2 separate regions of the Homo sapiens genome follow, and region 1 is linked to region 2. The links come from fine-mapping of genetic effects on gene expression. A gene starts in region 2. The other region holds a variant in brackets. All regions are shown on one strand. Distances are from middle to middle. Region 1 holds the start of TSPAN2 (tetraspanin 2). Region 2 holds the start of TSHB (thyroid stimulating hormone subunit beta).

Evidence for each region. PIP is the estimated chance that this variant, and not a neighbour inherited with it, causes the effect.
Region 1: its variant is the best candidate, but not a certain one, in a credible set for the expression of TSHB in cerebellar hemisphere (GTEx, PIP 0.82).

What each region holds. Positions count from the first base shown.
Region 1 is chr1:115,077,490-115,090,389 of GRCh38, reverse strand. It overlaps TSPAN2 (tetraspanin 2), which reads left to right and starts at 887. Exons shown (of 8, transcript NM_005725.6): 1 at 887-1,026. The coding sequence starts at 958. The variant C/T (reference allele first, on the strand shown) is at 6,726.
Region 2 is chr1:115,023,743-115,036,642 of GRCh38, reverse strand. TSHB (thyroid stimulating hormone subunit beta) reads right to left here and starts at 6,817. Exons shown (of 3, transcript NM_000549.5): 1 at 6,783-6,817; 2 at 3,119-3,281; 3 at 2,341-2,670. The coding sequence starts at 3,280. The coding sequence ends at 2,416.

The DNA.
Region 1 (12,900 bases), 54 kb before region 2:
AAAGTTTTGCTGAATTTATGCATAAGCTCTCCGAATTTTGCTTTCTTGTCTCCCCCATACTGTCTGACACCACATATTGTAGACACTTAGTCAATGGAAGTGGGAGTCTGATTTTCCTGCCAACAGCCTAACTTAATAAAAACAAAGCAAAACAAAAACCGCCCCCTTCCCCTTTCTCCCATCTCCACATCATAATTAAGATCCCGAAAATTTGGGATCCTTCCAAGCCCTCCGATCAGTGGAACCCGGCAGGACATGAGAAGTCAGACTCCCTCCACTGGCCGGCTGGGTTGAGGGCAGCCCACAGGACTCAGGGCGCCGCCTCCCGCACCCTCTCTCAGTTCTTGCCTATTAAGGTAAGAGTCCCCCGAGGAGGGGGGAGGGGCCGGAGGGAGGGTCCCCTAGAAGCTGCTTGTGTGCTTGCTCCGCGCCGCGGAGCCGCAGCCCTGGACACTCAGTCAGGTGCCCCGCGACTGGTCCTGCCAGCTTCGGGGCAACCTCCGACCCCACTTAGCTCTTCTACCCGAGGTCACCTTCCTAGATTTCCATAGCCACGAGACCAAGTGCTTATCCCTCAAGCATCGCCCGGGCCTCAAACCGGTCTCCGCACAGGGCGCTGATTAAATGGGTCCCCAGTCCCCGGTGGGCGCTCCCGCCCTGCAGGTGCTCCGATAGCCGGCGGCGGTGCGCCCACTGGAGGGAAGGAAGGTGGTCCCTGGGTCCGGGAGAAGAGCGAACGTGCTCCCTCGGGCTGCTCGATCTCCACCCGCTGGCGCCCCCACCCGTCGCCAGCCACGCCGCTTGGGGTCCACGCGCCCCTCCCCGCCGGGCCCCGCCCCGCCCCCCGGAGGCCCCGCCCCGGTCCTCCCCGCTCCGCCCCCTCCCCGCCGGAGCCTGCCGCTCCCCGCGCTCGTAGCGCGGGCCTGGGGACTGGGGATCCCGCCGCCGGGCCGCAGCATGGGGCGCTTCCGCGGGGGCCTGCGGTGCATCAAGTACCTGCTGCTTGGCTTCAACCTGCTCTTCTGGGTGAGACCAGGAGCCGGGAGGGCCGGTCAGGGCAGGGGGCCGGGTGGCGGGCGCGGGGCCGGGGTCCCCGAGCTGCTGACTGCGGCGTCCGAGTCGCGCTCGTGGGGAGGGCTGGGTGCTCAAACGCGGAGGCGAGGAGAAGGCAAACAAAGAGGGAGGGGAGGGATGGAAGGGAGAGAACGGGAAGACAGAAGGTTGATCAATGAGAAATGGTGAGAAGGGGAGAGACACCGTGTGGCTCTTTCCTGGAAGGAACCCCCACCTGCCTTGGTTTTTATCTCCCAGCTAGTGACCCCAGGTGCGGGGACCCAGCCTCTCCTCACCTCCGGAGGACTTGGGTCCCTGTTCCCCTCCAGTCTCCCGTGCACACACCCCCTTTTCACTCTGCCTACCAGCTGGAACCAGGGCCTGGCCAGGGTGATGGGAGAGAAACCCCTGCCCTGGGGCTGCCTGGGGTGGTGCTCCATTCGAGTGTGTGGACACTGTACCTGGCTGTGATGGTTTTGTTTAGGAAATTGGAGATAGGAGTGAAAATTGTGGTGGGGGGGCGTCGTCCTTTTTCTGGGCATCAGGGTAAGAGTACCCCTGGGTGAGAGGAGGTGGTGGGTTCTCTTCTGAGAAGGGGATGGGGAATGGAAGGGCTTCTAAAGGGCAGCAGCAGCTCTCCACAACCCCCAGCCGCAGCCTCTGCTAAATACTAATTCTCCCAGAGATGATCTCATTCAACTTTGCAGGGTTTGATTGAACTGACAGCGTTCCCAGGATTCATGGTTCACAGAGAGATAGGATCTTGACCCTTGTCTCCTATATTATCGAGACAGGGATACAGCTAGACCAGACCTACATCCCTGGATACCCTGTCCCAGGGCCTGCAGGACTGTGAGACAAGGTCTGAAAATTGTCTTTTCTGCACATTTCCTCTTGGGCTTTCTTAAGAGAATGTCAGCCAGTGTAACTGCTCAGCTAGACCCTGAGGGGAAACATTGGATAAAGAGGTTTGAGAGCAGCCAGGGCCTGGGTGCTTTGAAACTACCAGGTTGGAGGAGGTGGCTGTCCTATCTGCTCTGGGGGACGTTGTCTTCCCATGATTGCAACTAATTAATTATTGAATGATGGGCTCCTCTTTTGTCTGTCAATCCATTAGCCCAGATGCCTGGGTGACTTCAGCAACTCCAAGCTCTTCAGTATCCTTCAGCAGTGGAAGGTGTGAAGGAGGTACCTCCTCGACATCCCCTGAACTTTAAAGAGACACATGGCCTTTGTACACGTGGGGATTTACATCAAGCATACTATAGGGAGAGGCGTTTCTGAAGACCCTTTATGTTGTATTTTTTAGGAATCTGGCTTAATTTCAGAAGCTGTTAATTATAGATGTCACGCCACAGTGACAACCTTCATTCTCACTGCTTATGAATTCAAAGCCTTATGAAGTTTTAAGCCTGAGGAGGAATTCTTAAGCTGGGTTCAGTGCTTATTTAGTGGCTGATATTGTACCAGCCTTTCCAGTGATAGCTGGAAGGATTCATTGAATGTTTTCAATGTGTCAGGGACAGTGCTAAGCATATTACTTTCATTATTACACATAATCCTCACAAGAGTCCTGATATACATATACTATTATTATCCCCATTTTTTACAGATGAGGAAACAGGCTCAAATTGGTTAAGTCACCTAAGATCACACAGCTAGTGAGTGGCAGGGATGGTATTCAAACTCAGCCTACCTTCTCTTTTTTTTTTTTTTTTTTTGAGACGGAGTCTCACTCTGTAGCCCAGGCTGGAGTGCAGTGGCCCGATCTCCACTCACTGCAAGCTCCACCTCCCAGATGCACGCCATTCTCCTGCCTCAGCCGCCCAAATAGCTGGGACTACAAGCACCCTCCGCCACGTCTGGCTAGTTTTTTTGTATTTTTAGTACAGACGGGATTTTACCGTGTTAGCCAGGATGGTCTCCATCTTCTGACCTCATGATCTGCCTGCCTCAGCCTCCCAAAGTGCTGAGATTACAGGCGTGAGCCACCGCGCCTGGCCGCCTACCTTCTCTTAAGCACTGTGGTACATTCAATTAACCAGTGGTTCTCAAAAGTGGTTCCTGGGCCAGCAGCATCAGCATATCCTGGGAATTTGTCAGAAATACAAATTCTCAGGCCGGGCACAGTGGCTCATGCCTGTAATCCCAGCACTTTAGGAGGCCAAGGCAGGCGGATCACCTGAGGTCAGGAGTTCGAGACCAGCCTGGCCAACATGATGAAACCTCATCTCTACTAAAGTACAAAAATTAGCCGGGCATGGTGGTGGGTGCCTGTAATCCCAGCTACTTGGGAGGCTGAAGCAGAAGAATCTCTTGAACCCGGGAGGCAGAGGTTGCAGTGAGCTGAGATGGTGCCACATTGCACTCCAGCCTGGGCAACAAGAGCGAAACTCCATCTCAAAAACAAACAAACAAACAAACAAAATTCTCAGCTCATCCCAGACTTGCTGAATCAGAAACTCTGGGGGTAGGATCCAGCAATCTAATTTAACAAGCCATTCACATAATTCTGATCCATGCTCAAATTTGAGACCCATTCTGTTAAACAATGATTAAACAAATAATAATTTATAAATATAAACACAGTTCCCTAAGCTGCTCATCTCATTGAGGAAACGAGACCAGTGGATATGGAACAACACAAAAATAAGACAGTGTGGAATCAAGTGACAAGTTTCACACTGTTGACCGTAAGCACAGTAAGGAAAGGAAGTAGGAGCAGTGCAGTTTTAAGTGCTTGAATGTGTTAACCAGTGAGGTTAGATCCGACCTTCTCTATATGTGATCTAAGTAAGGAGTTTAGAGAAAGGATCACAGTCATGATGAGGAGCCAGAAAAGTTCTCCTTAAGAAGGAGCTATTCGAGCTAAACCTGGAAGGACTGGTAGAATGGAGCTGGGCAAAGCGAGGGGGTGACGCACCATCCACCAGCAGAGGAGCAGAGCAAGGGGGAGTGTGCGCCACCATCTGACTGTCGAAGCCATCAGGCTGGAGTGCAGAGATCCCAAGCAGGGCGTGCCTGCACAAACAGGGTGTACTTGAGCAAGTTATTGTTACTTCTAGGCTTGTTTTCTCATCTGTGCTATTGGAGTAACAGAAATATTGAGAGGATTAAGAGGGAATATATAAAGTATGTGACCTCAACTTCCTATGAGCCTAGGACATAGTAAATGCTCAAAAATATTAATTATTATTTTTGTTATCGGCACATAGGAAGCATTCAATAAATGTTAGCTCTCTTTCTCCTGATTCCTTTCTTGGTGGGGAATAGTATATAAGTTTGCCAAGTGACTTGCCATTTGTCTTCATTTGAGGATAACTACACCTTATCTTGTCAATTTGTACTTGTGGATTTTCCCCACTAGAACTTAAAACACTCTGAGAGCAGGAATTTTGTTTTTTCTGTTTTGCTCATAGCTGTATCCCCAGTGCTAGAATAGTGCCTAGCATATAGAAGGCATGCAGTAGGACATGAAGGACCTTCCTCTCCCCCAGTTTCATGGGGGGTGGGGGTGGAGGCAGCAACTAGAGCGAAGAGGCAACTGAAACAGGCACCTCATGACTTAAGGGAAAGTGTGGGATAAAGTATCTAGATATCTGCCTTCACTGTAACTGAGGGAACCTGATTCCAGAAAAGCCCCACTCAAGTTTCTAAAGTTGTTTTTTTGTGGTTGGAGGGCTTCGTGGGAAGTTTGGGAAAGGGGTGGGGGATAGTTTTCCTAGAAGGCCAGACTTTAGCTGTGACTGAAGTATAAATTTACACACACCCTTAGAAGCTCATGTGCCTGCCCCTCGGAGTTACGGGGTTCCTTGGGTGACAGCACTTCCTTCCAATCAGAACCTCGCCAGAAGTAAGCATAGAGGTGGGACAGGTTCTGTTTGGTGATCTGCGATTTAACAGATCAATTTGCAGCCTCCTCTGGCAGCTTGCTTTAAGTTTCCCTAGGCTGTGCTCCTGGTTTCATAAACATACAACCAGGCCCTGCCAGAGCCAGCACAGTATTCCCTGGCCCAGGGCCGCTGACTGTACTCACCACTGAATTTTTAAAAACAAAATAAAGCCTAGCCATTAACCCCACTACATTAATTTCTCTTATCGTGGTTGATGTCAAATGTGAAACCCCTCCCAACATCTGTCATGTCTAAATTCAGACCTGCGATCAGATAGCACAGCATATTCCTGTGCCTTTCATTGAAATCACCTTTTTTTTTCCTACGTTGCATAGCAATATAAATAAAACACTACACCCCCACCAAGCCGCATATGTTGGCTTAAAGGAAAACCTGGGCGCTGTTTATTCCTTGGTTTATTGTTGTATGGTCAGTGTTTTCCTATCATTGTGCTGCACTAGCTGCTCAGCGTTACTGACCCACAGGAAGCAGAGCTGTTCATTGTTGAAAAGCAGATTCCATATATGGCAAGTCTGAAGTTGCCCTCCTTTCCTTCTCACCATTATTAATACAGCTTTGGGTTTTCACTTGGGGATGCCTAACAGGTACATTTAAGAAAGACAGTGTCTTGCAGGCTTGGGAGTCAAAGAAGTTTGACTCACATGAATCTCATAGAGGTCACCTTCCACTCTTTCCCAAACTTATTTCAAACAGTAACTTCAGAGCAATCACCTGTCAGAGACATTGGTTTAGGAAAAAATACCTAAAGAAAGTATTCTTTGGAGACCAGCCCATAAGGCAGATAGGAATGTTCTCAGCCTCGCTGGAGGAGAATCTTCATTTCTGATTTTTGTCAAGGTGGAAAGAGAGTACCAGGGGCCAGTGTCCCCTAGTGTGGACCTAGAATTGCTAGGAGGAACAGATAGCCTACAAGAGGGGACAGTCTGAAGAAGCCACAGCTATGGTGCCAGGGTTCCGGTAGACCTCGGACAGACCTATGCAGCGTGGCAGTTCAAATCCAGGAATCCAAAACCTGGGCAGTGGATACTGACATCATACTGCCTGACTCTATTCCTGCCTCCACTCTTTACTACCTAGGGGACTTTGGGCAAGTTGTTTAACCTCTTTGAGCCTCCATTTTCTCATCTGTATAATGGACATAATAAACTACTAATATCTGTGAACTTTGTGCACATAAAATGAGTTAATATATGTAAGGTTATAAGTATGGTTCATGCATACAGTAAATAATAACATATCAGTAATAGTTGTTTTTAAATACTAGAAGTACAAATGGGAAAGTAGAATCTAGAATCCAAGAGGTTCATAAAGTCACAACAAAGCAGGCAGGTGTTTTACATCCAGCTAAGCAAGCAAGGTAGCAAGAGGCTTGGAGTTTATCAAGGGCATGGAGTCAAAAGGAGAGATCACTTCCTCCACCGTTCCCTGCCAAGTGCTGGGAATTCAAAGATGATTAAGACACAGCCCTTGATCTTGAGGCACTCATGCCTTTATTTAGCCTCCATTTTGCCTTTGATTAGAATTTATTCCCTGTTTAGTCTTTGCTCCTTGAGGGCAGGGACTGTGTCCTTTTGGCATCCCCTTTCTCCCAATCCCTCAGTACCTAATAGAGTTAAGCATGGCTCCAGCTAAGGTAGTTGTGTGCACTGACCCTGGAGCAGGATCTGTTTATTTCCTTTCCCACTTCTGTGCTACTAAGTGGAGGCCAAGGAAAAGCAATGGGAAAACCTTTGGTGATCAGTGCCTCTCAAACTTTAA[C/T]GTGCGTACAGATCACATAGGGAGCTTATTCAGCTTTATTCGGATTCAGTGGGTCTGCATTTCTAACAAGCTCCCAGGTGATGCTCGTGTTGCTGGTCTGGGAACATGCTTTGAGAACCCCTGTTTTAGATGTGGCCTGAAGAGGTCAGAGATTCAGCAGTGGCACTTGTTTCTGACTGAAGCAGGGTGTGCCCTGCTTCTTGGCTTACTCACTTGGCTTGTTTTTGGCAGTTCTTTTAATTTCAGTTACCACTTTACCTTTATTAAGTCTCTTTTTTACGCTAATACTTGATGCTTTCTGGAATTACCGGGAGGCCACCTGTCCATTGTTCATTGCATTTCACCTTGTTGTTCTAGAACATCAGCCATGAAGTGTCTTTGGGTCTCCAACCATGTGTGACAAAAGAGAACGTAACCTCTATCCCCCAACCTTGACAGTTAATATCGCGAAGCTGCTCCCTTAAAACAAGTGATGCTATACTGAGCACTGAAACAAATCATGTCATGGTTGCTAAGGAATTAAAGAGAGAATGCTGCCAGCAAGATGGAAATACCAGATGGGCTGGGAGCACATCTTACAGATGAATTAACTCGGGTTACCTTGGCCTGCCTTTTTCATCCTCTTTGAATTTGATTGGGAACAAAAATAACAATGCTTCAGTTTACGAAGTGCTTTCATATGCGTTATCCCACCTGATCATGAATCACAACAATCTCACGAAATAGTGTAATTATTCCCATTTTACAGTTGTGAAAGCTGAAAGTCAGGCACAGTAGGTGGTATGTCCCAGGTCTTCTGACTTTAAACCCCATGCTTTTTTCATTGTTTTAATTTATTGGAACGTGTAGAATATAAGGTATAAGAAATGCTGCTAACTTGGAAAATCTGAAGCCTGTGATCAGGGAGATTATATTCAGTGTCAGATTTAGTCTTGATGCATTCCAGAAACAGGTACAAAGAGATGCCTAAAAATACTAAGGCATATGGGAGAAGAAGCAGGAAGGAGAGAGGTTGGGAACACTGCTGATCAGTTTCAGGCAGAGGAAAAGTAACATGGAAATTGAGAAAGGGTATATATCAAGAGACAGTTTAAAAAGTTAATTTCAGGAGCAAAAACTTGAAGAATAGTAAGCACTATATAAATGTACACTATGTGCCAGCTGCTTTCCTAAGCATTTATTAACTAATTTAATCCTCACAACAACCCTATGAAATAGTAGCAGTTATCATCCCCAGTTTACATATGAGAAAACAGAGGTCTGAAGCATTGAAGAGACTTGAGAGCTGGCCAGTGGCAGAGCTGTGTCTCTATGTGTGTCCCCAGAGTCTGTACTCATAACCACTCCAAGTCTACAGACTATCGGAGAGGAAGGTTGAAGCTCTGACAAACTTGTGAATTCTAGACCTGCACTGTCCAATGCGGCGACTATGCTACTGATCACATGTAGCTATTTAAATTAATTAAAACTAAATAAAATGTAACCTTCATTTTCTCAGTCCCACTAGCTACATTTCAGAGCTCCATAGCCATAGGTGCCTAGTGGCCACAACGCTGGACAGCAGAGATATAGGACATTTACATCATTGGAGAAAGGTCTTCTTGACAGCCCTAGCCTAAATATAGTTATTCTTTCACTCATAAATATATCTATTCATATTTTTCTCTTATGGGGTCTTAAAAACATTAAAGAGAGGAGACATAGTTTCCACAAAAGGCTACTGACTTTCTAGTATAGAAGATTTAGAAAACCGAAAGGAATTCCAGCTGTCATGGAAAGAGGGAGTGTGGATCTAAAATAAAAATTAGTAGAGGACGGCTGCAGCAAACCACATTATTGGAACCATGGGAGCGATGTTTCCTATCTTGAAGATTAAGCTTTTGGTTTGAAGGTAACATTAGCAAGTCTACCAACATAATAGCACAAAGTGTGAGGCACTTACTGTTCTCAGTGTGTAACATGAACTCATTTAGTCTCTTTAGGAGGCACTATTATTACCTTCACTTTGCAGATGAGGAAGCTGGGGTTAGAGAGGTTAAGTGGCTTGCCCAAGATTATAGGACCAGTAAGTGCCAGAGTCTGATTCAAACCCAAATGCGTAGAACCCCCATTTTTATCCACTACAACTCCTTTACACCTACGTACCGTATGCACGCATGTGTTTATTACCCTAAGGGCATCATTATATATTCTGAACACCCAGAAGAGGTGAATTTCTAGAAGAACAGTTGGCAGATATTCCAGGATGTGTACCAAGCTCTGTCCTCCACATCGTAATGGTGATTGGGAAAGAGTCAGCTTATTAACAGGGGTGGCAGAGCAAGGCTGAGCAGGGCCAGGGGTGCATTGGAAGTTGCTGTCACTCATCCAGGAAGCCGACTTTGTCTCCCTGCTCCCGCCAGAGTCTATCTAGCCTTCTGTGAATGGACCAGTGCTGCACCTTCCTGACCTCAAACAGGTCCTGGTAAAATGGCTTTTAAGAAAAATCTCTATAGAGCACCAAGCTAGACTTTCACAATTTCTGCTAGATTCCACCCATGCTAACTTCTTAGTAAACAAATTGTTTTGGCTTTTCTAATCTAGCCTTAGTTCCATTTGAAACATTTTTTTAACCACTGTCATTCTGTAACAACTAAAACTGGATGAAGATCATTATTTATTGATCAATAATTAAGAATTGTTTATCTGCTCCAAAGTAGTTCTCCCAACCACTATAAATAAATATTGTTTAATGTGTTGTCTTTGCTTATGTAAAGCTCTATATAGATGAGATGTCACAGTAGTCATTGTGGCCTCCAAGATAAGTGATTATATATGCAGAGGGCAGGCCTAGGATGAGAGCCAGCTGGATGTTCCAAGGAGGAGGTCCGCTGAACCTAGAAAAGACCATTTTTTTCCTCTCCGGGCTTATCCCCTTGATGAGGTAAGTAAGGCAGACATTGAGTTCAGTTCACTTCTGTGACTTGGTAGACCAGATTTTAGTTCTGTACATATTTGATCTTCATTTGAGAAAGCCATCTGCTCCCTGGAATCCTTAGCCAGTAGTCTATGACATTTCATTTTGCTGTATAGTATAAAGAAGACTACATAGGCTGGGCATGGTGGCTCACACCTGTAATCCCAGCACTTTGGGAGGCTGAGGCAAGAGGATCACTTGTGCCCGGGAGTTCAAGACCAGTCTGGACAACAAAGTAAGGCCCCATCTCTACCAAAAAATAGAAAAAAATAGCTGGATGTGGTTGCACATGCTTGTAGTGGGAGGAGGAGGTGGGAGGATGGATTGAGCCTGGGAGGTCAAGACTGCAGTGAGCTGTGATCAGGCCACTGCACTCCAGCCTGGGCAACAGAGTAAGACCCTATCTCAAAAAAATAAAAAGCAAGAAAACTACACAGCCATCGTCTTTCTCCTAATTCTTGATGTTCCCTAATCTCCTTCTCCTTCTCCCTGTATTGTTAAGAGAAAAGACATTATGTATAATCACCAAATAAACAACACATTTTCCACTGTCTATATGTAAATTATCTGCTCTATCATTTGCAGCAAGCTTTTCATCCCAAGTTAGTTTCCTTCCCCTGAGCTTATATTTCTCCAGCACTTCTAAACTGCCCCCAGCAATGTTGGTTGACCCATGCAAGTTAACTTTATAACAATTTAAACAAACTGAAGGTGCATCTGGCACAAATGTATAGCCCAGTGTTCTTTGCAGAGATGAATGGAACACTCCTGATTTTATTGTGGCCTGAATTGCACCACCCTTCCATCACTGCAGAGAATTAAGCATTGGTCAATTATAAAATATACTCTTACCTGAAGGAAGTTTTTCTTACTGTGAGCTTTTTCTTAGGAAATGGCATGAGGAAAATAATGGGGAGATCAGAAACACTGGTACCTAAAGGAGCTGCCATGCATTTCCAGACTAACACAGCCTTCTCATCGCCACAGGCTGCCACAGTCCTGCCTCTCAGTTCCCACTCACCTGGTCCTGATGAAGGCCAAGGTAGTGAGGTCCTTCGGAGACCATTTGACATAGATGTCATATGGCATTCAATTCTTGTATTTTTTCTGATAAAACCCTTGATTTTGAAGAAATGCCATCTGAATCCTTGACTTGCTTTTACTGCATAACAGAATAAAAATCTTGGGAGCTGGTTTTCCTCTTTGAGAAAATTCAGATCATCTTCCAGAGCAAATGTGCTTCTGACTTTTGCCTGCTAAGAGGGTGAGACTCCATTACCCTTAAGGTATCATAATGGGGTTTACAATCAGATCAATAATCATAAGTGCTCATTATGTGATTCCAATGGGGATGAGAATTGCCACCAAGAGCAAGTATTAGCTTAAAAGCATTTAATGAAAATTCTAGGGTTGAAGCATCATTTCCAATTTTGTGACTTCATCCCAAAGAAGAGAATTGCAAATGAGTTGGTATTCACCCTGGAGAAGCAAGAATACAGAATTGATTTTGTTCATTCTTTCATTTGAGTGCAGCATGCGCGTGTGTGTGTGTGTGTGTGTGTGTGTGTGTGGCGCTATAATTGTATTGTGTTCATATGCCCCTGCCAGTGGAAGGCATGTATACATTGTGTAGATTTACATTGTGTAGATTTATTCTTTGTATCCGTGGATGGTACACAACACACATTCCTGCAGGCTTAGGAAAACACAGAACTGATACTATGTGCTCTACTTTTGTTTTCTGTTTCTGAGGCATGTGTTTTGCTGAGCATATTCAACAGCGTGTTCACACAGTGCCTTCGAAGGTATCTGCAGTGTTTCCCAGGTGCAGATGAGTTTGAAAATAGCACTTTGTGAAGTATTCCCTTGGAGACTTGTGAAGGAGGTTGTTCGCAATTGCTCCTGTCAGCCTGTCTTAATCAGCTCAAGCTGACATTTTAAAAATATAATACCACAGAGTGGGGTGGCTGAAGCAGAAATTTATTTTTCACAGTTCTGGAGACTAGAAGTCAGAGGTCAGGTGCTGGAGGTTGGAAGTCAGGTTGGATTCTGGTGAGGGCTCCCTGGTGAGGGCTTGTGGACAGCTACCTTCTTGCCATGTCTTCATATGGTGGAGAGACAGAAAGCAAGCTCTCTGGTGTCTCTTCTTATAAGGGCACTAGTCCCTCATGATGGCCCCACCCTCATGACCTCATTTAAACCTAGTTACCTCCCAAAGCCCCAACCCCACATATCCTCACACTGGGAATTAGGCCTCAACCTGTGAATTTTGCAGGTTGGAGGGATACAATTCAGTCTATAGCATCTTTGTGAAGGTCCTCCATTCACTCATTTAGCAAATGTCTATTGGGAGCCCACTCTGCAGGGCAGAGGGGATTATGTTTGGGAAACAGCAATATAGACCCTGTCCCTGCCCTCACAGAGCTTAGGCCTTAATTTACAAAATATGGGCATATTTAAGTAGAAAACATTATGTGAGATATAAAAGAAGGTACCTATCTAGGTCATGGTAGGCTTCCCTGAGGAATTAATGTTAGAGCTGTGAATGGGTGTCAGCTAGGGGGAGGCGGAGGAGGGAACAGCAAGAACAGAGACCTCCACAGGGGCAGGAAGGATCTGAAACTGTAGCTGGAGCATCTGAGGGCCAGGACCTGTGTTTCCCACTTAGGTATCAGTGCACATGCTGTCTAGAACTTCCCTAAATGATGCTTTTTACCCCCAAAGGGGGCTTTTTTGCTGGACTTAGTCACTAGAAAGTGGATAGCAGGTATTTGCTCTTGGTGATCTGGTTGGCTAACCTCCAGGAAAAGGAGGACAGCTGGGCAGACTGGGGAGGCCAGAATGAGGAATGATCTCTGCATTCTTGCATCTCAGCACCACCCCACTCCAACCGCAGCGCCTGCCTAGGGACCATGTTTGCAATTTGTGAAACCTGTCTTTTTTTAAAATGAAAAAATATGTCCTCAAGATAGGACATCTCATCAGCAATCCCAGGAAATGGAAGTAAGTACAGTAAAATAAAATTGAAATCTATTAGCAAGCTCTGCTTCATGCACGATGACTTTTTTTTGGCAGATAGCCATTATTAAAGAAAACTTTTTGTCCATCCACTTTGCTTTAAATGCTTTCTAATCAAGTTTTCAGTCCTTCTTCTGTTTCTTGAGTTTTAGAACACACATTGTTTTCACTAAAGACATATGCTTACAATTTGCAATTTCG
Region 2 (12,900 bases):
ACAATAGTGGAAGCCAAATTGTAATGATTGTGAAGAGAACGAGAAGTGAGGAAGTAGTTGGTTAGTGTAGTGGGCTCTTTCACACACACACACACACAAAACTCGAAATAAGAACTCAAGGAGAGAGGGGGCAAATAACTAGATGGTTGCAGAGGATCAAGAGAGGGTTGTTTTTTTGCTTTTGCTTTTTTTATGATGGAAAGAGATTTAAGGATGCTTCATACTGAAAAGAAGGAATCAAGAAAAAGGAAGCAAGAGAAAATACGACAGCAAACAATGAAGTCCTAGGGGAGATGAGGAATGGAATTAGGAGCATCTTCTGAAACTAGTGGGAAAGAGCTGAATCTATCAGAACTTCTCAGTTGCAAGTGTCAGAAACCTAACTCTAACTGGGCAGAAAAGGGAAGTTATGGTTTCTTTTAAGGGGTGAAGCCAGCTTCAGATTAGGCTCAAATGATATCAATAGGCCTCTCTCTCCTCAGTCTCTCTTGCTCTCCACTGGGTTGGACAGCTAGCTGTTTCCAAGGGATGCCAAAGATGGCCAGCAGCAACTCCAGGCTCACATTTTATCAGTTTAGGAACTCCAACAGGCCAACCACTTCTCTTTCTAATAGTCCAGGTTTGGTTGAGCCTAGTAGCATACCCACCCTCATCATCCCCACTGAAACCACTTGAACTCAAACTGTAGGTGAAGAGAACCCCAGAGGGAAATCAAGGTGCAGCTACCAGAAGAAGAGACATGGATGCTAAGCAGGCAGAAACGGCAGGTAGAAGGAGGGTAGCAGAAGTAGAGAAAGTGAGATAGAGTTGTCTTATAAGTGGGGATTAACCAGGAGAGATAAGCAAGTAGGGAAGAACCCAACAGTGAACAGTAGAGTGGAAGTTAACTTTATAAAAGAATTTTTATTGCACTTAGACTCAGACAGTTCAAATCCTTGAGAAAACTTTTTCAGAATCCATGAAGGCATTTGTGACTAGTCCCTGTTAGATTTGAACATTAGACTTTTTATTTATTAAAGATCTGTATTTGACATACAGTTTAAGTGGTATGCAGCTTTAAATGTCCATGTTATCAGCTGATATGAGAACACAAAACCCTAGATTAATATGTGGAGACCACACAAATACCAATTTCAGATATTAAAGTAAAATAATGTGAGTTCTGACTTTTGTATGTAAATACACATCTATTCCCTCCCTGTTGTACTAATCCATCTACAGGACCCCACCACTACCACCACCACCCTCCTCAGCCCACCCCATGCACTATCAATCAGCATACAGACATTTACAGTATGCCTAGCTGAATTTAACTGGTGGCTATAGAATACAGCAAAGGCAACTGGCCCTGCTGACAACTGTTTTTCACCTTGGTGGGGCAGTGTGAATGAAAAGGAATGGACAAAGAGAGGATATATCAACTTTTTGAGATCAAGTCTACAGGGCACTGGGTCTGTCTCACGTCAATCATCTGTTGAAACCAAATTCTCATGAAAGAGTGTCTAAGGAAGGAGAATAAAAATAAACAGCTGCTTACCAAGCACATTTACCAGAAAACAGTGTTTCAATATTGATGAAGGTTTAGATTAGAATTTAGAATAATTCCACTCTCTCAAATCCCTTTGCACTCTCCCCCATCCCTAAAACCTTTTATTGTCATACCAGTTTTTCATTACATTAAAAGTCAAAACAGCACCAGTTACTTTTGGTATAAATGCTGAAAAGCATCTCCTATTACTTGAAGGCCTACAAAGGATTTAGACTTCCACATGTAAAATGATCGTGGCCTCTTTTCTAGGCTTTGTAAACTGACTTTTTGGGGTATAACTTTCATAGGTCACTTGGTGCACCAGAGTAATTAATTAAAGAAAATAGTTCCTAGACTCTTCTGAGTTTGGGTGGAGTTTTATCCAGTGCATTTGAATGACCAGGAATAAAGCACTCCACTGTAGATTCCACATGCTCCTTACTCCCCACCTCCATGCCAGCCCTGCTTCTAGCCTTTGGAAGTAGATGTCTCCAGTATCCTGACACCATGTGTTCCTTCAGCTTTTGATCACATTACTCTCTCTTCATAACTCTGTAGTCATCCCACATTCACTTTCTATATCATAGAAACCTCCTGGCCCTCTGTTAGGAGAGACTGTTCAAGGTGAGCTTTTTGGCATTTCATATCCCTGTTCTCCATTTTACCACCACTCTGCTCTTTCACGTGAAAACCAACCTTCAACTGAGCCCAAAAGGTCCATTCATTCACCTTTTCTTCTAAAACCACTTAAGCTCTCTAACGCCTGTGTAGGTATGGGTATGGATTAAATAGTACTCAAAATGAACAGAAGATAATGTGAAACATAATATTTTTATTAGCTTTATTTCAGGCAAGCACATTTAACCAAATTGCAAATTATATCACTATTAGACAGAAAATCCTACCAGATAAGACTTCTGAGGTTTGGTACAGTAGTTTGTCTTGATGGCTTCATGTATGCAGTCACTATAGTCAGTATTGCACTTGCCACACTTACAGCTTAAAGCAACAGGATAGGAAAAATAGGGAGCAACATGGAGTGGGCATCCTGGTATTTCTACAGTCCTGTAGATGAAGTCTCTATATGTGCAAACATCCTGGGACAGAGCATATTTGGGAAGAAACAGTTTGCCATTGATATCCTGGGGAAAGAACAGAAAAGAGAGCATAATGTGACAGGACTTTAGGAAACATATAGATAATAGAAACATAAAAATAAATTCACTTATATTCCTTCATCACAAATACAACTGGGAAAGAATTGCTTAGCCCCATTCTCCAATACCAACTTAACCACGTTGAATTCTACAGAGACAAAAGTGAGACCCTCCTCTCTTTCATCGTTGATCATGGGAACAAGATAAGGTTTAAGTAAAGCTGGGACACAAAACTGTTATAAAATTATGCGTATCCATTGTGCTGAGTAGATTCACATAATATTGTAACCTGTGTACTCTGCTTCTAAGGAGCCAATAACCATTAGATTTGGGAAATGAGGTTGTGATTTATTTCATTTCCTTTCTATATAGGAATGGACTTCTTCAGGGCTTATATAATTTACAGCCAAAAGAAGTGACATGAACTACATACCCGTGTCATACAATATCCAGCACAGATGGTGGTGTTGATGGTTAGGCAATAAGCACACTCTCTCCTTTCGATGTGCATTGTATACTCAGTTGGAATACAAAAAGACATCGCTTGCCCACATGTAAGGCCAAAAAGCATGGACATCAGAAAGAGAGCAGTCATGCTAAATCAAAGATAAAATTAAAGAACCTATTTGTTAAAATCAGAAAGGGCAAAGAAACCAAGAAAAAGTATAACCAAACTTCAGTACCATCCCAATGCATATGATCATGCTTATAATTCTACCATTTGGTCAAGGAAGACACCAGAAAGATAAAGTCCAAAAAAGGTCAACTGAAATTACAACTGGTGTTAAGGGGCTAACTCAGAAATCTAGGAACCCCCTGATCCCACTTCCAAACCCTTAGGATATCCCTTTAAGGTGGAAATATGTACAGCTGGGACAAATTAAAGATTATTTTACACAGAACAGGTATGTAATTTGTTCTCAAAAAGATTAACAGGCAAAAAAAAAAAAAAGGTTGACACAATTAGAAGAATACAATCAAGGATGACAGCTCCATTATGGGTTAGCCAGGAATATTAAATAATTTTTGGATGCATGGAAGAAAATAGAGGATCCACAGTGCCTCAGGCAGAAACAGAACATGCATCTCAATAGAGCCTGCGTGATGAAGAACTTGTTCAATATCAATTGGATATCATTATCAATATGTATTGATTGGATATAGTTATATTGGATATGATATCATATTGGATATATCATATCAATATGATATTGATATGATATTGATATTGATATCATTATCCCTCTGGATAATGTTATGACATAATTATTTTAGGTCTACTACTGAGGAAGGGTAATTAAATTTCAGACTTTTGAATGTAAGTTGATCACCTTGAAGATTAAGAAGAATTTTTTTAATCTTACAAATATTGTACAGCTAGCTAGATGTGTTTGGATTTTTTTCCTTCTCAAGTATCATTGTCAGTAAAGAAAATATATACCTTAATGGAGTAGTATTGTGGTCTATGAACATAAACTTGTTTGCTTGTTCTATTAAATAAAATATAATTTACTAAATATTTTGTTCAATAATCAGAAGTACCAAGATTTCCCCAAATCTGTCAGTTATATCCCAACAGCATCTTTAAGCTATATACACTAAAACCTCTGTAAACTGAAACCTCATAGGTTCGGCCTTGGTTAACCAGGATTTTTTTTTCAATCAACTTATAAGAAACCATGAAAACCACATTACACAGGTTACCAGGGATTTATTTTAAATGTCAAATTCCAGAGATCAGTGGTCATTTCAATCAACCTTCTATTCCTAGAATGAGAATTGTAGATAAATTAGATAAACATATATTGAGCATCTGAACCAGGCACTGACAAACACAAACGGAAAAGCTACGGTCCTTTACCTAAAGGGCTGACTGTCCAGTGGAGGAGCTAATATGAACACAAATAATAAAAACGCAGATTGTTCTAGTGCTCTGAAAGAGTCCAAATTAAGACTTTAAGACCTACAATTATCAAAGATTTATGTTTACTATACTTCTTATTACACAAGAAAGTAAACTAACCCATTTTAGGAAGACTTAACTTTTAAAGGTTAAAATAACAGGGGTTTTTCTCACAAATTCTTTTAAATGAAATGTTGCATATTCAAACATTCCACGGAAGGTTTGTTTGGTATTTGAGTTAAGGAGCAAAAACATACAAATTCCTTACTCATGGAATCTGGCTTTCTCAAGCGCTTCTCAAATGTGAGCTCCCTCTATGGTACAGAGTTGCTTCCAGTATTTTAGAGATACAGAACTTGATGATCCTCTGTAGGATCTTAAAATTACTAACTGGTAAATTATGTAAAATGCTTACCCATCATGGCCATTATAGTTCTTGCTTGTTTAGACAGCCAGCTACTGAGTTTTTTCTATAGGAAACAACTAACTTCACATATTTTAACTTTTAGCTCTATAATTCTGTATAAAATCAATGTGGTGACCTGGTGATGAAAATATTGGTCTAAAAATTAAGAAACAGAATTCTTCCATAAATCTATGAGAACTTGACTAAAATATATAATCTGTTTGAGTGTTATTTCCCCATCTGCAAAATAGAAAGTGACAAGTACACCTGACCCTTTTTAAAATGTAGGATGAAAATTTGTTTTGGTTTTCCTATTGTCATACTAACTATGGATACTCTATATTTTTTTGAAGTTTCTCCTATAAATGTAGAACTCTAAACTAACAAAAGTAGAAAATGGAAGTGCTGAATTACCAGCCACAGTATCTGTACAACTTTGTGGGCATAAAGAAAGCAAGAACTTTTCTTTTCCTTTACTTCTTTATTGCGAATAGTAAAACTTCACCCACAGAATCTTTCTGGGCCTCAACTTTCTCACCTATAAAAGCAGGGCTTAGAGCCAGAAGATGATCATGAAAATCTTCGCAGCACAAATAGTCTGTAATTCTATATGATAAATTAGTGTCAGATCTGATTGATTGATTAAGAGTTAGTGATCTAAATTCTACTTAAGGATTTAATTGTAATTGTGTGCAACTGAGCAATTTAATATCTTTGTGCCTTCATTTTTCCATATGTCCCTTCCTAAAATCATAAAAAGAATAAAACAATACATGTGAAACACTTGGCTCTCTATATAAGAAAGATCACATAGCTGTATAACACTGTACAAATCCGCGTTAGTTAATCCCTTCCTCTGTGATATGCCACAATTTCTTCCTCATTGTCATCTGGGTTCTCATCTTTGCCACTTAATTGCTTATTCTGAAATCACCATGAATAATTTGTTGGGTACCTAAACATAGAAGGCATGGTTTCAGGCAGGGCCTAAATAATGAGATGCCTTCTTCAGATGCATGGACATATATGTCCCTACTTTGAACGTATTTTCTTATTCCAAGATATGTTCTTTCCTTTGCCTCTTTCCTCTCTTTTTTTCTCTTATTTTTGCTCCCAATGCTTCATTCTTAATAAACACTTTCCTCTCTGCTCTGCTAATTTCCTTCATTAATTTTTACTCTCCAAATCCCTTACTATGAAAAGAACTAATTGCCCATCCTATGAATAATCCTGGAACTTCACTAAAGCAGTATATTTTTCTAGAAAGCAAAATGTACTATACAGCAGCTGTGTGTGTGTTGAACACTATCAAAGGAGGTTTAGCTATTAAATAACTAAAAAGAACTTATAATACAGAGTACATTACCCCAGCAGGTACTCAAAAATGAATTTGCTCTAACATTCCCGGAAGTACATTTTCATAAAAGATGGCCATTAGTACAGTAATTGAGAGGATTTAATACACACATCATTAAATGGACAACAATATTTAAATCAAAATGAAAACAGAAGAAAGCCATGAATATCAAATATCCTTCATTAGGGAACTAATCAGTTGTTTCTCTTTCTTTAAGTCAATGAATTTTTTCCTTATCCTTATGTAGGTAGTTCTCTCACCTCCATCTACTACTAAACAATTTGGAGCAGTAATTTAAGATATTACAGCCTGTTGAAGCAAATTATCTTTCAGCATTTGCCACTTTCTAAAAAATGATAAAATGGTGAAAGTGAAAAAAAATAGCTTAAGAACATATCATTTCACAGAGCCTTCTCACTATAGACACCTACCTTACTTTGCATTGGTGAGCAGATGCTGTGGTGACCCAAACTAAAAGCTCTTGGTTCATTTTATACCCTTCAGGATAATCCCTCTGATCTTCTTGTTTATACAATTGCATTTGATTTACTGCTTTCTTATCTGAAAAGCATCTATTGAAAATTCATACTGAATTCCAAATAAAATGTATTTAGACAAACAAGCTCACAATATCTTTACCTGGAAACTGACATTATTAAAGCATGCATTTTCCTCTCTTCTGTTTCAAAATAAAATTACCTTTTAAATATATTCTTTATTAATATTTATTTATTAATATTAATAAAAGATAGATACAGAATGGGAAAAACCAAATTCAAAAAACACTCTAACATCATCTAAATAAGTCTTGGGAATAAAAATTTATTTGGGGCTTGAGGGCTTCAAGTTTTACCTAAATGTTCATGTAAAGATATATAAAATTATTCCTCATCTAAAAATTTTGTTTAGAACAAAATGTGTAGTTCAAAATATTTTTGGGGGATTTTAAGATATTAAGTAAAATTTACACATGTGAAAGAATGACTCTGAGGAACATGGCCACATCTGACAGGATGTCAAGCTGACCTGAGATAAAATTTTGGCCCTGCCATTTACTTGCCATATGACATTGGCATGCTTGACCTCTTCAGTTTCTATTAAAAGGTAATATCACTTCTCTAATGATTTGTGGTGTGAGCATTTTTTCATATGCTTATTGGCCATGTATATATCTTCTTTTGAAAAGTGTCTGTTTATGTCTTTTGCCCACTTTTTAACGGGGTTCTTCAGTTTTTGCTTATAAATTGTTTAAGCTCCTTATAGATTCTGGATATTAGACCTTTGTCAGATGCATAGTTTGCAAATATTTTCTCCCATTCTGTAGGTTGTGTGTTTATTATGTTGATAGTTTCTTTTCCTGTTACATCAGGTAACAAAAGTACACGATCCTAGAGAGATGGGAAACAAACAGGGAGAAACTGCCTGGAGAAAGTTTCTGGGCCATAATGCAGAAGCCCTTTAGTTAAAGGTCCCATTTGTCAACTTTTGTTCTTGTTGAAACTCCATTTGTCGTCTTCGTCATGAAATCTCTGCCCGGTCCTACATCTGGAATGATATTTCCTAGGTTATCCTCGAGGGTTTTTACAGTTTTAGGTTTTACATGTAAGTCTTTAATCCACGTTGAGTTGATTTTTCTATATGGTGTAGGGAAGGGATCCAGTTTCAGTCTTCTGCATATGGCTAGCCAGTTATCTCAGCACCATTTATTGTACAGGGAATCTTTTCCCCATTGCTTGTTTTTGTCAGTTTAATTGAAAAAAGAATGATTGTCAAATCAGGCAGCCCTCAGAATCAGAAGAGATTCACAGAGCTCTGCTCCTCAATGTGGGCAGACAGCATTTATGGACAGAAAGTAGAAATGAGATATCGAAACAGCTTGATTTCATTATACATCAGCACTTGCCTTACTTGGACAAAGTCTGATCAGCTGGCTGCCTGTAATTGACTGAAGCTCAGCTGCTGTGATGAGCTGAAATTCAGCTGTCTGTTACAAAAGTATACTCCTAAGTTAGGCTTTCAGGTAGTGTACATACTAAGTTAGGTTGCAGTTCATTATGTAGGAACTCACAAAACAGAGGTATCCTCAGGCCACATTTAGTTTAACAGATATATACCTAGAAATGGCCATGCCAGGGTCCAAGGTCTTGGGAATGTGAGCTACTATGTAGTAAGATAATTTTGAAAACAGGGAAACTGGAAATGAGTGTGCCAACCTAATTTCAGACAAGATGCTAACACAGGAATATGATAAATGGAAGAATGTTGGATGTGTGTTTCTAATGGAATTAGTGCCTCCTTTGTATAAAGCATTGATTCAGGAACTCATTTTCTAGCGGATTTATATACCTATCCCTGGGAGATATATGTATGTATGTGTGTGTGTACATATGTAATGGACAACTGATAGACACTTGGCCTGTTACTAAAAGAACTATAATAAATACCATGCATTTGGGTAGTGATTTTCTTGCTAAAGAGGCCTTAGTGTATATGATCTCATACTGTTAAAAGAATCCAGGCATGTTGAATTTGTGCTTCTGATCCAGGTTTACTTTCTCACCTAAAATAATTATAAAACAGTACAAAATATATAAAATAATGTCTTTATACATATTGGACATCAGGTAACAAAAGTACATGATCCGAGAGAGATGGGAAACAAACAGGGAGAGACTGCCTGGAGAAAGTTTCTGTGCCATAGTGCATGAAAAGTTACCAAGGCAGAGGCCAGAAGCATCACCAAATTGAAGAGATAGACCTGGGAGTCCATGGATCCCCAAGGCAGCTAGAGTTCACAAGAAAGACATTATCAAAAAAGAAAACCACAAACTAATAACCCTCATGAAATGAACATAGATGCAAAAATTCTTCACAAAATTTAACAAAACAAAATAAACAATATGTAAAAAGAATAATACATCATGGTCGAAGTGGAATTTATTTCAGGAATGCGAGTTTAGTTTGCATTCAATTAAGAAAATTCACCCTACTAACGGGCTAAAAACTAAAAGCCTTATGATGATCCCAATGGAAACACACACACACACACAACCACATACACAAAAAGCATTTTACAAAATCCAACATAGATTCCTGAAAAAATTTTCGGCAAACTTGGAATAGAAGAAAACCTCCTAACTTAATAAAAGGCATCATGGAAAATTTATGATTAATATCATGCTTAATATTGAAAGACAGAGTACGTTTACTCTAAGATCAGGAAAAAGGCAAAAACGTCTGCTTTTGCATCTTCTATTAAACACTGTGCTGTAAGTGCAATGTTAACGCAATAAGCCAAAGGAAAAAAGACATTCAGATGGGAAAGGAAGGAGTAAAATTTTATTCACATACGACATGACCATCTATGTTGAAAATCTTACTGAATCGCTGATTTCAAGATGGTAAACCTATGGTAATTAAGAAAGTGGTGTTAAGACAGATCATTGGAACAAAATATGGTCCAGTAATAAACCTGTACACATGTGGTCAAATTATTTTCAAGAAAGGTGAAAACAAAATTGAGTAGAAAATAAATAGTATTTTCAACAAATGGTGCTGGAACAATTCGTTATCCATATATAAAAATAAATACTTTTTAAAAATAAATAAATAACTTCAATACATATCTTGCATTATATACAAATATTAACATGAAATATAAAAACTAAAATTCTAACATTTCTAGAAGAAAGCATGGAATAAAACTTTTGTTAGGGCCGGGCGAGGTGGCTCACGCCTGTAATCCCAGCACTTTGGGAGGCCGAGGCGGGCGGATCACGAGGTCAGGAGATCGAGACCATCCCGGCTAAAACGGTGAAACCCCGTCTCTACTAAAAATACAAAAAATTAGCTGGGCGTAGTGGCGGGCGCCTGTAGTCTCAGCTACTTGGGAGGCTGAGGCAGGAGAATGGCGTGAACCCGGGAGGCGGAGCTTGCAGTGAGCTGAGATCCCGCCACTGCACTCCAGCCTGGGCGACAGAGCGAGACTCCGTCCCAAAAAAAAAAAAAAAAACTTTTGTTAGGCAAAACTTGAATTAGGCAAAACTTTCTTAGATATAACACCAACAGCATGATCCATTTTCAAAAAATGATAAATTGGACTCCATCAGAATTAAGAACTTCTCTCTTCGAAAGGCATTGTTAAAAGAACGACATACCACAAACTGAAAGAAAAGAAACTTGCAAATTATATATAAGATAAAGAACTTGTATACAGAATATATGAAGAACCTGCTATACTCAATTATAAGAAAAAAATTATCCAATTTTTTAAATAAGCAAATGTTTGAATAGACATTTCACAAAATTATGTAGATGGGAAGTAAACAGATGAAAAATTTTCATCATTAGTCTCAGAGATAAGAAATTAAGACCTCAATGACAGCACTACACACGTCTTGGGCTGCCTAAAATTTAAAAATTGGAAATACCAAGGGTTAGCAAGGATGTGGAGCAATCGAAATTTGTATACAATGTTTGATGGAAACATAAAATGGTACAAGTTCGTCAGTCCATAAGTCTCTCAAAAAGTTAAACATACACCTACAATATGACCCAATCATTCCACTCCTCAGTATTTATCTAAGAGAAATAATAAGATATATCCATACATGAACTTGTACATAAACATTTATAGCATCTTTATTTTTAATAGCCCCAAACTGGAAACAACCTGAATGTCCATCCACAGGTGATAAACAAATATGTCATATATATGCAGTAGAATATGTGTCAGCAGTAAATAGGAATAAACTACTGACACAGCAGTGACATGAACATCAATAATTATGTTATAATCTTAATGTTATTAAGACAGACCAAAACAGAGTACATGCCATATAATTCAGTTTATATAAAATACCAGAAAATACAAATTAGTGTAAGACAGCAGACTAATGATTGCCTGGGGATGAGGAAAGGCAAGGAAGGGGAAGAAAGAGGGATTTCCAAGGGGCAGAGGAAATATTTAGGAGGTGAAAAATGTGTTCATTATCTTGATTGTGATGATGGTTTTACAGGATATACATATGTTAAAACCTACCAAAATATATGCAGGGTTAGGGGTTGAATTATGTACCCCCAAAATTCAAATGTTGAAGTTCTAACCTGTAGTATATCAGAATGTGAACTTATTTGGAAATAAGTTCATTACAAATGAAATTAATTAATATGAAATAATACTGGAGTAAAGTAGGCCACTAGCCAATATGATTGGATATATCCCCTTCCAAAAAGAGGACACTTGGACACAGACACATGAACAAGGAGAATGCCATGTGAAGAATGAAATTATGTTGCTTCAAACCAAGGACTACCAGAAGCTGCAATAGAGGCCTGGAATACATCCTAGCTCAGCAGCTTCAGAGGGAACATGGTCCTGCAGACACTTTGATCTTGGACTTCTGGCCTCTAAAACTGTAAGAAAATAAATCTCTGTTGTTTTAAACCACTCAGTTTATGGTACTTTGTTATGGCAGTCCCAGGAAACTAATATATGCAATTTATTGTATGTCAATTATACCTCAATAAAACTGATAAAAAATATGGTAGGTGGAAATCATCTGTGCCTACTTGTCTAACTTCATGTCATACCCACCTCTCTCCACCTTTTATTTATTATGTCCCTTAGAACATTCCAAACTTGTTCTTGGAACAGTGCTTTTACATTTGCTATTTGTTCATTATGGAGCAACCTTTCAACAAGTCTTTGAATGGCTTTCTCCTTATCATCTCAGCTTAAAAATTACTTCTTTAGAAAACCCTTCCTTGACCACCCAGTCTAATGCAGCCTACTGCCACTGTCACTTTTTATCCTGTTATCTCATATATTCTTCATTGCACTTAGCATTTTCTGATACTATATTATTTGTTTATATACTTATTCTCTGTCTCCCCCTTTCCAACCAGACTGTAAGCAATTTAAATGGAAGCTTTGTTTGTCTTGCTCATCACCATATCTTCAGAATCCAAACCAGCCTCTGCTATATATTAGGTACTCAGTAAATATTGATTACATAAATAAATGGAAACATAGATCCTATTCTGACATTTTGCATCCATGGAGAGGTTATTTAATGCTCTGATGTTCTATAGATAGTTATAGGCAAAGTCAGGCTAAAATCCAAGTTTCTTGACATCGTTTTTGTTGCATTAAAATTTTAACTCATTTTCAAAGAAAAACAAACACTCGTACTCTTTACTTAGCTAAACAGAGAAGTGGCATTAAAATATGAATCAGATTTACTGACATTATCCTTTACCCCAAAGATTGGGTACTTTTCTAGCTCCTACTATTCTCTATATCCATAAAATTCTAAAATCCTGGGCAATATAGACACTTTTAAAATAATCAGTTTAGCCATCTTAAGCCTGAGTTATCAGTAACAGTCATATTAAAATGGCCTGCAACATGAAACAAAACCTGTTTGTTTACTTAATTCCTTTCCATGCTTTTTTTCTTAATACAGATAATTGGTAGCAAACAGAGTTCACCCTATCTGCATATTGAGCATTTTATTATTTTAAAGCTCTCAAGTGAGAAGACAAAAT